Regions from separate parts of the Homo sapiens genome. Here region 1 is reported to be linked to region 2. Evidence: microRNA targets listed by miRTarBase, many of them from high-throughput screens and not tested one by one. Region 2 holds a microRNA gene; the other region holds the end of a gene's coding sequence.
Evidence for each region. The annotated mature microRNA hsa-miR-1276 reads UAAAGAGCCCUGUGGAGACA and lies in region 2 at 2,738-2,757, shown strand. An mRNA with a match to its seed (bases 2 to 7 or 8) in the 3' UTR can be bound and repressed. Matches are read on the target gene's strand: a 7mer-m8 pairs with bases 2 to 8, a 7mer-A1 pairs with bases 2 to 7 and ends in A, and an 8mer does both.

Region 1: miRTarBase lists PNN as a target of hsa-miR-1276. Seed matches in the 3' UTR shown: 7mer-A1 at 3,158-3,164 and 7mer-A1 at 3,021-3,027.

The regions. Positions count from the first base shown.
Region 1 is chr14:39,180,074-39,185,455 of GRCh38, reverse strand. It overlaps PNN (pinin, desmosome associated protein), which reads right to left. Exons shown (of 9, transcript NM_002687.4): 9 at 2,236-4,953. The coding sequence ends at 3,593. Among named protein-coding and RNA genes, the nearest start is that of PNN-AS1, 6.9 kb to the right of the region's middle.
Region 2 is chr15:85,767,923-85,773,304 of GRCh38, reverse strand. It overlaps MIR1276 (microRNA 1276), which reads left to right and starts at 2,727; the gene lies at 2,727-2,809. KLHL25 (kelch like family member 25) reads left to right here. Exons shown (of 3, transcript NM_022480.4): 2 at 3,485-5,288. The coding sequence starts at 3,495. The coding sequence ends at 5,264. RefSeq lists enhancers at 2,423-3,195, 3,196-3,970, 3,971-4,744, 4,745-5,382.

The sequences.
Region 1 (5,382 bases), not on the chromosome of region 2:
AAATTACCTGAGTAATCATGTAAATTGTTATCATTCTACAGATAGTGTGTAGAAGGACCCTAGATTGGAAATACAGCTCATTGAAGTTCAAACTATCTTTATTTTGGTGGTTACCCAAACCTTGGTATCTTAAAAGATGTTTCCTTAATAGCCCCTTAGACATCTCTGCCAATTTTTTTTTTAGACAGTCTGTCACCAGTATGGAGTGCAGTGGTGCCATCAAAGCTCACTATAACCTCAAACTCCTGGGTTCAAGCAATCCTCCCACCTCAGCCCCCGAAGTAACTAGAACTACAGGTACACACATGGCTAAATTTTTCTATTTTTTGTAGAGATAGATTCTTGCTGATGCCCAGGTCAGTCTTGAACTCCTGGCTTCAAGCCATCCATCCTCTACCCTCAGCCTCCCAAATTGCTGGGATTACAGGTGTGAGCCATAGCACCCAGCCTGTCTTTCCTAATACAGCTCTAAACTGATTTCAGTCCTAACTCACCATCTCTATCCCCTTTCAGCTCCTAAGTTTTCCATAAACACTATTTGGGTTTTTTTGTTATTTTTTAGACAGGGTCTCACTCTGTCACCCAGGCTGGAGTGCAGTAGTGTGATCATAGCTACTTCACCTCAACCTCCTGGGCTCAAGCAATCCTCCTGTCTCAGCCTCCAGAGTAGCTGGGACTCAGGCTCATGCCACCACAATCGGCTAGTTTTTCTCTTCGTAGACAGTTTTTTGCCATGTTGCCGAGGTTGGTCTCTGGCTCCTGGGCTCAAGCAATCTTTCCACCTCAGCCTCCCAAAGTGTTGGGAATTACAGGCCACTGCACTCAACCATAAACACTAATTTGTAATCTCCAGTAGGAAGACTACTGCGTGTTAGCCGGGCGCCGTGGCTCATGCCTGTAATCCCAGCACTTTGGGAGGCCAAGGCAGGCGGATCACGATGTCAGGAGTTCGAGACCAGTCTGGCCAACACAGTGAAACCCCCAACTCTACTAAAAATACAAAAAAAAAAAAAAAAAAAAAAATTAGCCAGGTGTGGTGGTGTGCGCCTGTAATCCCAGCTACTTGGAAGGCTGAGGCAGAATTGCATGAAGCTGGGAGGCGGAGGTTGCAGTGAGCCGAGATCGCACCACTGCACTCCAGCCTGGGTGACAGAACGAGACTCCATCTCAAAAAAAAAAAAAAAAAAAAAGACTACTGCATGTCTTTTCCCCCTGGGAAACTGTCATTACTTTTACATTCTTCTTCCTTGTGTCTCTTCAAGTGCAATTCCATGGTTCTCTGAACATTAAGTTCCATAAAATTTTAGTTCAAGGATAAAGCACTGATCGGAAACAAAAAAATCTAAAATACTATATTTAAAAAATTAAACCTTCCAACCTAAAAATGAATACCACTTAAAAATGTTAGTACAATCTGTTATTAAAATTCCTGTGCTCACTTCAGCAGCACATACTAAAATTGGAACACAGACCAAGAGTGGTGGCTCACGCCTGTAATCCCAGCACTTTCAGAGGCCAAGGCAGGAGTAACGCTTGAGCCCAGGAGTTCGAGACCAGCCTGGGCAACATAGTGAGATCCTGTCTCTACAAAAAATAAAAAATTAACTGGGAATGGTGGTGCACACCTGTAGTCCCAGGTACTTGGTAGGCTGAGGTGGGAGGATCCCTTGAACCCAGGAGGTCGAGGCTGCAGTCAGATTGTTTGTGCCACTGCACTCCAGCCTGGGTGACAGACTAAGACCCTGTCTCCGAGAAAAAAAAAAAAAAAAAAAAAGATTAAAATGGCCCCTGCACAAGGATGACATGCAAATTCATCAAGCATTCCATATAAGAAAAATTCCTTTCACATACTATGATCAGTAGCGCTTAACTGAAATTACTGAAAATTACTTTCCCCTCAAGCATTCATTATACCCCCATTACTACCCCTCCTATAGTAGAGCTTCAAGCCAATACTAGCCTTTTCTGTAAGCAACATGAATATTGTTCAGATTTTCCAGGTACAAATCAGTAGACAAAACTTAATTTGTATAAAGGATTTTAGTGCATACAAACTGTCATCAAATAAGGTGCTTTTTAACCAGGTTAAATTTTATGATCATCCCTTTAATTCACTATTTACCAACCTCTTTCCTGCCAGGGCACACAGGAAATGAAACATTTTGCTGGATAAGCCACAGATGAAGGTACTAGTGGTGGAACTGGCTCATGGATACAGATTGCTGTGCAAAGCTCTATGCATTTACTGTTTTAATAATTACTCCAATAAAAGGATTTTTAAAAAGAGATCTTTTAACACATCCACTTACACAAGTGAGTTATATACACACAAAAACTAACTGGAAATACTTCTTCACATTTTCACTGTAACCATTTACTTGTCAAGGGAAGGCAAAATGAATATTCAAAGTCAAGGCTAAAGCTACAGTGTTAAACTCAAAGAAGGATGCAATTTAAGTGCTCTCTTGTATAAAGCATCAGAAAGTTAATACAAGTACTAGTCTTAAGCAGTCACACAAGTCTAAGCCACATTTATTTGCACATGTATAGTAATGGCCAACAGATACTCCAAGTTCATACAAATTTGTAAAACAACAAAGTTAATAATCACTTGGTACACTTGTGTGTTATCTTGCTTACATATTAAAACCTAGATGAACTTCCTTCATTTTGTGGACTTCCATACAATACTTCCTTAAACAAAATTCTTGAAAACACATATCAGCATGTTTAAGTTAGAGCCAACACAAAGTTAAGACAAGACACAAACTCAAAAACCAAGTTTGAAAGATACTTTTCTACCTCCCTCCCCTAGAAAGAAGTGATTTTCTTTAACAGATGTATGTTATATCACACAAGTAACCATGAAGACAAAAGAATGACGCTCCCATCATCAGGAAGAAAATGCCAACCAGATCATACTGTTTAGTTATCTACCGAACATATGGTTAAAATATGAGAAACGGGGGAAAATGCTTAGATTAAAATAACAAGGGAGAATAGAAAATAGCAAATGATTTTAAAGAGAACTGTTCCCCCTCAAAGCTGCAAAGCTCTGACTCTGACAACTAAAAACTGTCCAAGGCAAATAAAAACGAGGAAACCTTCAAAAACATTCTAATCACGTGCAGTATCTAGTGTTAAAAGCTGAAAATGATAAAGAGGATATTTATTATACAAGTGTCAACGAGGACATCCCAAAAATAATGAAATAAACACACATTTATTTCTACAAAAGCAATGTATGATACAGAATTAGAAGGGAACAGACTTAAAGATTTGCCTATTAAAATATACAGATTCTTACTGAAGAGTATAGGATATTTAAAAAAGATGACAAGGGATGTTAATCTTTTTTTATTATTATCATTTTTACATATTTTGGAACCTCACATAATTTTGATAAATAACTCTTACAAAATTATGCAAAAAGTACAAGAATGTCTGGTAAACAAACAGTCTGTATTTTCCAAAAAGATTTTTTACAACATGCAATTCTTAAGGCAGCATCCTCTTTACAAGGAAAGGTAATCCTTTTTTATCAAGAAATCTTCTGCTGCAAAGAATGGCTAAGAAAGCCTGGCTTCTTCCATTAACGCCTTTTGTCTTTCCTGTCTGATTTTCGGTCTCTTTCACTTCTTGAAGATCTTTTGCCTGATCGACTACTCTCTGATATAGACCTCTTTCTGTCGGACCGGGAATTCTTATCCTTTGATCCTTTTGTATCTCTACTACTACCACCTTTTGAAGATTTGTGACTTCTTTCTAGTCCTGAAGTATCCCTTCTCTTCCGATCCACGCTCCTTCTGTGCTTTCTATCTCTATTATGTCCCCGGCCCCTACTCCGACTTCTACTCTCACTACTACTACTAGTGCTACTGCTACTATCTCTGCTGCTGCTGCCACTTGTACTGGAGCTGCTACTGGAACTACTGCGACTGCTACTACTTCCACTGCTGGAACTACTTCCACTGCTGCTACTGGTTGAACTGCTACTAGAACTGCTACTGCTACTGCTTCGACTTCTACTCTTGCTTGTTTTATTTCTAGCTCGACCTCTACTTCTGCTCCTAGTTTTGGTTTTGCTCTTGCTCTCTGGATGTACTGTCAAGACTGGCTCTACTGGTACCTCAGTGAGTTTTACAGACTCTACAGGAAAATCCTTCCTCTCAGGTAGTAAATGCCCTTGCTCCTGAGTAACTTGGGGTGTTGGCTGTAAAACAGCTAATGACAAATCCTCAGGCTGAGAGGGAGGCTGGGACTGGAGTACTGGTTGGGACTGGGATTGAAGCTGAAGCTGGGGCTGAGACTGAGGCTGAGGTTGAGCCACAGGCTCAGGTTGGGGCTCAGATTCTTTTTCTTCTTTTTCCTCAGACTCCTTTTCCATGTCTAAAGCACTGACATTCTCTTTCCCAGGAGAAAGGGTTTTACATTCTTTATCTGGCTCAATTTCAAATTCCATTTCTGGTTCCAATTCTTTGCTAGCTTCATTTTCTGAAGGTTCTACACTTTCAACTCGATTAGTTTCCATTACCTCCTGGTCAGCAATTACATGTTTGACATTCTCAACCATCTCTAGCACATCCATAACTTCTTCAGGCTGACTATCCTGCTGCTTCTCACTTTCCCTTACCTCAGTTTCCTCCTCCATCTTAACCTCCATTTCCTGTTTTTGTTCTTCCTCCTCCTGTTCTTTCTCTGCATCACTATGAACAATCGCTATTTCCTTTTCCTCTTCCTCTCCTGCTTCCTCTATTTCTACATCATTGTGCTGATTACCTGTCTCCTCCAACTCTTCCTCTCGCTGAGCCACCTTACCCTCTTCTTGTTCCGCCTTCTGTTCTTCATTACGCACCACCTGATGCTCTTTTTCCTTCATTGATTGTCTTCTAGGCCTAGCCTCCATTTTATTTATTTGTTCTGCAAATTCGATGCGTCTACCTTCAAATAAAGCTAAAGAATAAAAATTTACATGTGTAAAATTTACCGATTAAGAAAATTCAAAGCCATAATTTTATAACTGGTCACAAATTGTCATTAAGCTTCATCTGAATTTGTTTTTGTAAAGTTATGACAAAAGATTATGGCAATTAAGTAACCACAAACTGACATAAAATTATAAAAGCAAAGATCCATGGGAAATCTACATACTAGAAATTGTGGCAGACAGAACTACACATTTTCTAACTGATGAAGAAAACAGATCAATCTTTATGTCTGATGAAAAATAAAACTTCTGTAAAACAGAACCAGTTTTGGCATAAAATCATATATATTAATTTTTCTGATCCCAAAGAGATAAATCATCATCTTAGCAGTGTCTATCCTTCCATGTGTTTTCCATCTAGAAACTGAGTTGGTTTTCACATTTGTCTTATTAGC
Region 2 (5,382 bases):
TGAATGAGTTTCGTGTGCTGTGTCTCAGGGCTTCATCATGGGCATAGGAAGAGATGGACAGGTCCATGCCATCAAGTCAAGTGACCTCTGTGCCGGGATCTGTCCTGGGTGTTGAGGTCACATCAGTGAGCCCCACACATGGTCCCTGCCTTTCTGGGCCTCCTGTGCAGTTTGGGAGACAGTACACAAATAACATGCCCAGAAGCTGTGTGGGCCTCAGCATCCTTGCCTGTAAAGTGGGGCTCCAGTGCCTCACTTGGGATCAGGCTGAGTCGGTGAGTGAGTGGCTGCCATCAGTGGAAGATTGGCTCAGGGGCAGGCGCTGCCCAGAAGGAGATGGGACAAACCGGGGAAACAACTAGGCAGGTGCTTCCGCCCTTGGCACAGAGGTGCCCCAGGCTGGCGGCTGTCTAGGGGGTGGGAACCTGCCTGGGCGTGTACATGAGTTGCCAGCATCTGCATCAGCAGGCAGGCATTCTTGGTGCCGACTTTGGCAGGGTATCTGTCAGCTCTGGGACCCTGGGTTGCCGCTCACTGTTGGCTTGGAGAGGTCACTGCTCTGCCTCCTTCTCTGGACCATTGTGGCTGCCCTGTTTCAATTTGCCCTGCTTTTTGGCTTTCTCGGTCTTTTGAGTCTTGCTTTGTCCTGCCCATAACCCCCTCCAAAGGGAGTCTCTGCCTGGGTACTCTCGCAGGCAGCCCAGTTAACACAGTGCCCCAGAGTGGAGTTAGTTCTAGGTGTGTTGGTTCCAGGGCCGTAGTTACTAAGGTGAGGAGCTGGGATTCCAGCTGGGGCTGTCTGTAAGAAGAATCCCAGAGGGGCTCACCCCACACTTGGAGTGTCCAAGCCCAGGCATTCAAGCTGCCGTTCAGCCCAAGCTCAGAACCAGCCTCCCCTCTGGCAGGGCCAGGGTGGGGCAGGGGGCAGGTGCGATGAGGTGCCTAGGGACCTAGAGCAGGGAGGTCCTTGGAAGCACAAGTGTGTTGACAATGGAACTGAAGCCAAACCTCAGCATCAGGGCCCTTGAACGTGACCTCAGTGGAGAGGGCATGGGCTTAGGAGTCCCAGGGCTCGAACTAGAATTCTTCCTGGTCCTTGGCTCTCCACGTTTCCCCCAGCACGGTCTGCAGACCAGAGGCAACAAATGCCTCTTAAAATGTCCTGACACTGTGGGGTGGGGCAGGAGGGGACAGAGCCACATTTGGGAAATTGTCTGATCACCAAGGGGGTGGTCTGGAGTGAGGAAACTGGAGTGAGAGTTTAGCAATCACAGCAAGATTTGGGGAAATGTCGCAGGGTCTGGAATTCAGATTAGGCAATTCCGATCAGTCACGGGCCAGGCTGTTGGCAAAGCTTCCCTCAGACCCGGTCAGCGCAGTCTCTCAGGCTCCGTGCCACTGCATCTGAGGGCCCAGCTTCGAGGATGTGCTCAGGAAATAGTTGCCAACAAGTGAGTTGTGGAGGCCTGAGTAGGATGGGGATCTCACTTTACAAGAAAATAATAGTGAGGTACAGGATGGAGGTGGAGCCAGGATACAGCCTGGATCTGCGTCCAGTGCTCTCACCCCAACCCCCAGAAGGGCTAACCTCATATAGCCTCGGAGCCCTGTGGACTGTGGGCTGCAGGTTTGGACAGCAGTGTCTTAGGCAGGTCCTCGGTGTACAGTCTACCTGGAGCTTGGGGGTCCAAGCAGCAAGGCCAGTCTGGCCCTGTGCCCTCTCTGCCTAAGCCCAAAAGCAGGGACCTTGCTAGCTCTAATCTCGTCAGTTTGTGGCTTCTCTGCCTCTTTTCCAGAGGAGGAGTGAGCAAGAGAGAGCCATGTAGCCGGACACTCATTTACAATTTCACTGAAGCATGAAATCGTTTCCTACCTTTACCAGATTATTACCTAAGTAGAAAATTGACTTGGAGTGGGAGGCGGCAGGAGAGTTACATACTTTTGAAAATTAAAAATGAAAAACTTTGTTGTTTAGGGTTTTTTGTTTTTCTTGGCCCCATTACCAGCAGGAAGACAGCAGCACAGGCTTTTAGGGGGTCAAGATACTGGAATGCAGTTTGCTTTTTGGCCATGTTTTCTTTTCTTTCTTTTTTTTTTTTTTTTCAGGCTTAATTCACTTTATTTTTCTTGTATAAAAACCCTGTTGTAGCCACAGCTGGAGCGTAGGTCCTCTGCATGGAGACTCTGGTGAGGGTCTTGACAAGGTGGTCAGTGAATTCCTGATCGGGAGACTTGGTGAATACAGTCTCCTTCCACAGGTCAGTGGGGCAGGTAGCTGTGGTCTTCGAGATGGCCTCAAGGGTGTTGGCCATGTTTTCTCTAGGTATATGAGTTTTGCCGCCTGTTGGCTGAGCCTTGAGTTCAAAGTACTGAACTGGGGCCTCGGGTCATGCCATTCACTGGACATTAATGACAGTGCTTTAGAATTCCCCTAGATTGAGCAAGTAGTGAACCTGTTTCTTGGCCATCACTCCATCACTCTGAGCGCCAGGTCCCCAGGCCTGGTGGAGAAGGGCAGGCAAGGGAGGCAGGGGAGGCGCTGCGTTGGCCCAGGATCCTGGCGTCAGCTGGGGGACCTGGGAAGCTCTGGCTTCGTGTTTCTCTGCTTTGCTGAGGCAAATCTGGATCACTTCCGTTAGGGTTCGGCATGTCCTGCTGTCATCTTGGGCCTCTGCGTTGGTCTCGAGGGTGAGTCACTGGCGGCCCCACCTCCAAGCCATCACTTGCCCCAGCTAGGTAAAGAGCCCTGTGGAGACACCTGGATTCAGAGAACATGTCTCCACTGAGCACTTGGGCCTTGATGGCGGCTCTTGTTCCAAGGCAAGGGGGATGTCTAGCCAGTACCGCTTGGAGCCCGGCCCAGGGCAGAGCCTGCTGGGAGCAGGGAAGTGGGTACGTGAGGCTCTGCTTGGGCGTCCACAGCAAACCCTGCAGGGATTAGTCACCTTGAACAGAGATCAGGCTCCAGAGCCGGACAGCCCATGTGAGAATCCTGGCTGTGGCAGTTTGGGTAGTTTCTTGGCCTCTCTGAGCTGTGGCTTCCCTAGCTCTAAAATGGGACTTACAAGAGAAGCTTCTGTAGAGGACTGTCATGAGAGTGGAATGTGGTCAAAGGCACCAGTTACTTAGCACTGCCCGGACACCAGCCTCAGTCAGGAACACCGTTTGCATGTTCTCTTAACCATGGGAGGCAGCCTCAACTGGAGCTTGCCTAGGGGGTGGCTCATCTGCAGGCCAGAGATGTTTGTCCCAGAGCTGGCTCATACCCTGAGAACAAAACCAGTTTCTGCAGGGCAGGGTGAGACCCAGCCACTCTTGCCTGTGTTGTCCTTGGCAACGTGGTTGCGGGAGAGGGGCTTGGTTTAGCAGAGGTGAGCAGAGAGTGGGTGGGAGGGGACAAGGGGGCTTGTGCTGAAGAGTGAGCCCTGAGAGGGCAGATGGGCAGGAGGGGCTCCTCTAACCTGTGGGCTTGTTCCCCCACAAGCTGACGCACCATGTCGGTCAGTGTCCATGAGACCCGCAAGTCGCGGAGCAGCACGGGGTCCATGAACGTCACCCTCTTCCACAAGGCCTCCCACCCGGACTGTGTGCTGGCCCACCTCAACACGCTTCGCAAGCACTGCATGTTCACCGACGTCACACTCTGGGCGGGCGACCGTGCCTTCCCCTGTCACCGTGCCGTGCTGGCCGCCTCTAGCCGCTATTTTGAGGCCATGTTCAGCCATGGCCTTCGGGAGAGCCGGGATGACACTGTCAACTTCCAGGACAACCTGCACCCGGAGGTGCTGGAGCTGCTGCTGGACTTTGCCTACTCCTCACGCATCGCCATCAACGAGGAGAACGCTGAGTCACTGCTGGAGGCAGGCGACATGCTGCAGTTCCACGATGTGCGGGATGCTGCCGCCGAGTTCCTGGAGAAGAACCTTTTCCCCTCCAACTGCCTGGGCATGATGCTGCTCTCGGACGCCCACCAGTGCCGCCGGCTGTATGAGTTCTCCTGGCGCATGTGCCTGGTGCACTTTGAGACGGTGAGGCAGAGCGAGGACTTCAACAGCCTGTCCAAGGACACACTGCTGGACCTCATCTCGAGTGATGAGCTGGAGACCGAGGACGAGCGGGTGGTCTTCGAGGCCATCCTCCAGTGGGTGAAGCACGACCTGGAGCCACGGAAGGTCCACTTGCCCGAGCTCCTCCGCAGCGTGCGTCTGGCCTTGCTGCCGTCCGACTGCCTGCAGGAGGCCGTCTCCAGCGAGGCCCTCCTCATGGCAGACGAGCGCACCAAGCTTATCATGGATGAGGCCCTGCGCTGCAAGACCAGGATCCTGCAGAATGATGGCGTGGTCACCAGCCCCTGTGCCCGGCCACGCAAGGCGGGCCACACGCTACTCATCCTGGGGGGCCAGACCTTCATGTGTGACAAGATCTACCAGGTGGACCACAAGGCCAAGGAGATCATCCCCAAGGCCGACCTGCCCAGCCCCCGGAAGGAGTTCAGCGCCTCAGCGATCGGCTGCAAGGTCTATGTGACGGGGGGCAGGGGCTCCGAGAACGGGGTCTCCAAGGATGTCTGGGTGTACGACACCGTACATGAGGAATGGTCCAAGGCGGCGCCCATGCTGATTGCCCGCTTTGGCCATGGCTCAGCTGAGCTGGAGAACTGCCTCTATGTGGTGGGGGGACACACATCCCTGGCAGGGGTCTTCCCGGCCTCGCCTTCTGTCTCCCTGAAACAAGTGGAGAAATACGACCCTGGGGCCAACAAGTGGATGATGGTGGCCCCCTTGCGGGATGGCGTCAGCAATGCCGCAGTGGTGAGTGCCAAGCTGAAGCTCTTTGTTTTCGGAGGAACCAGCATCCACCGGGACATGGTGTCCAAGGTCCAGTGCTATGACCCCTCGGAGAACAGGTGGACGATCAAGGCCGAGTGCCCCCAGCCTTGGCGGTACACAGCCGCTGCCGTCCTGGGCAGCCAGATCTTCATCATGGGAGGTGACACGGAATTCACAGCCGCCTCGGCCTACCGCTTTGACTGTGAGACCAACCAGTGGACGCGGATTGGGGACATGACTGCCAAGCGCATGTCCTGCCATGCCCTGGCTTCCGGCAACAAGCTCTATGTGGTCGGGGGCTACTTTGGGACCCAGAGGTGTAAGACTCTGGACTGCTATGACCCCACTTCAGATACATGGAACTGCATCACCACAGTGCCCTACTCACTTATCCCCACGGCCTTTGTCAGCACCTGGAAGCACCTGCCCGCGTGAGGAGCACCTGCTGAGCCCAGCCAGGTGAGTCCCTGGCAGCCCACGGCCACTCTGGGTCCGGAAAGGTCATGGGGGAATGCAGTCCCACCTCTTCCCACTGGGTGAAGGTCACCGTGTC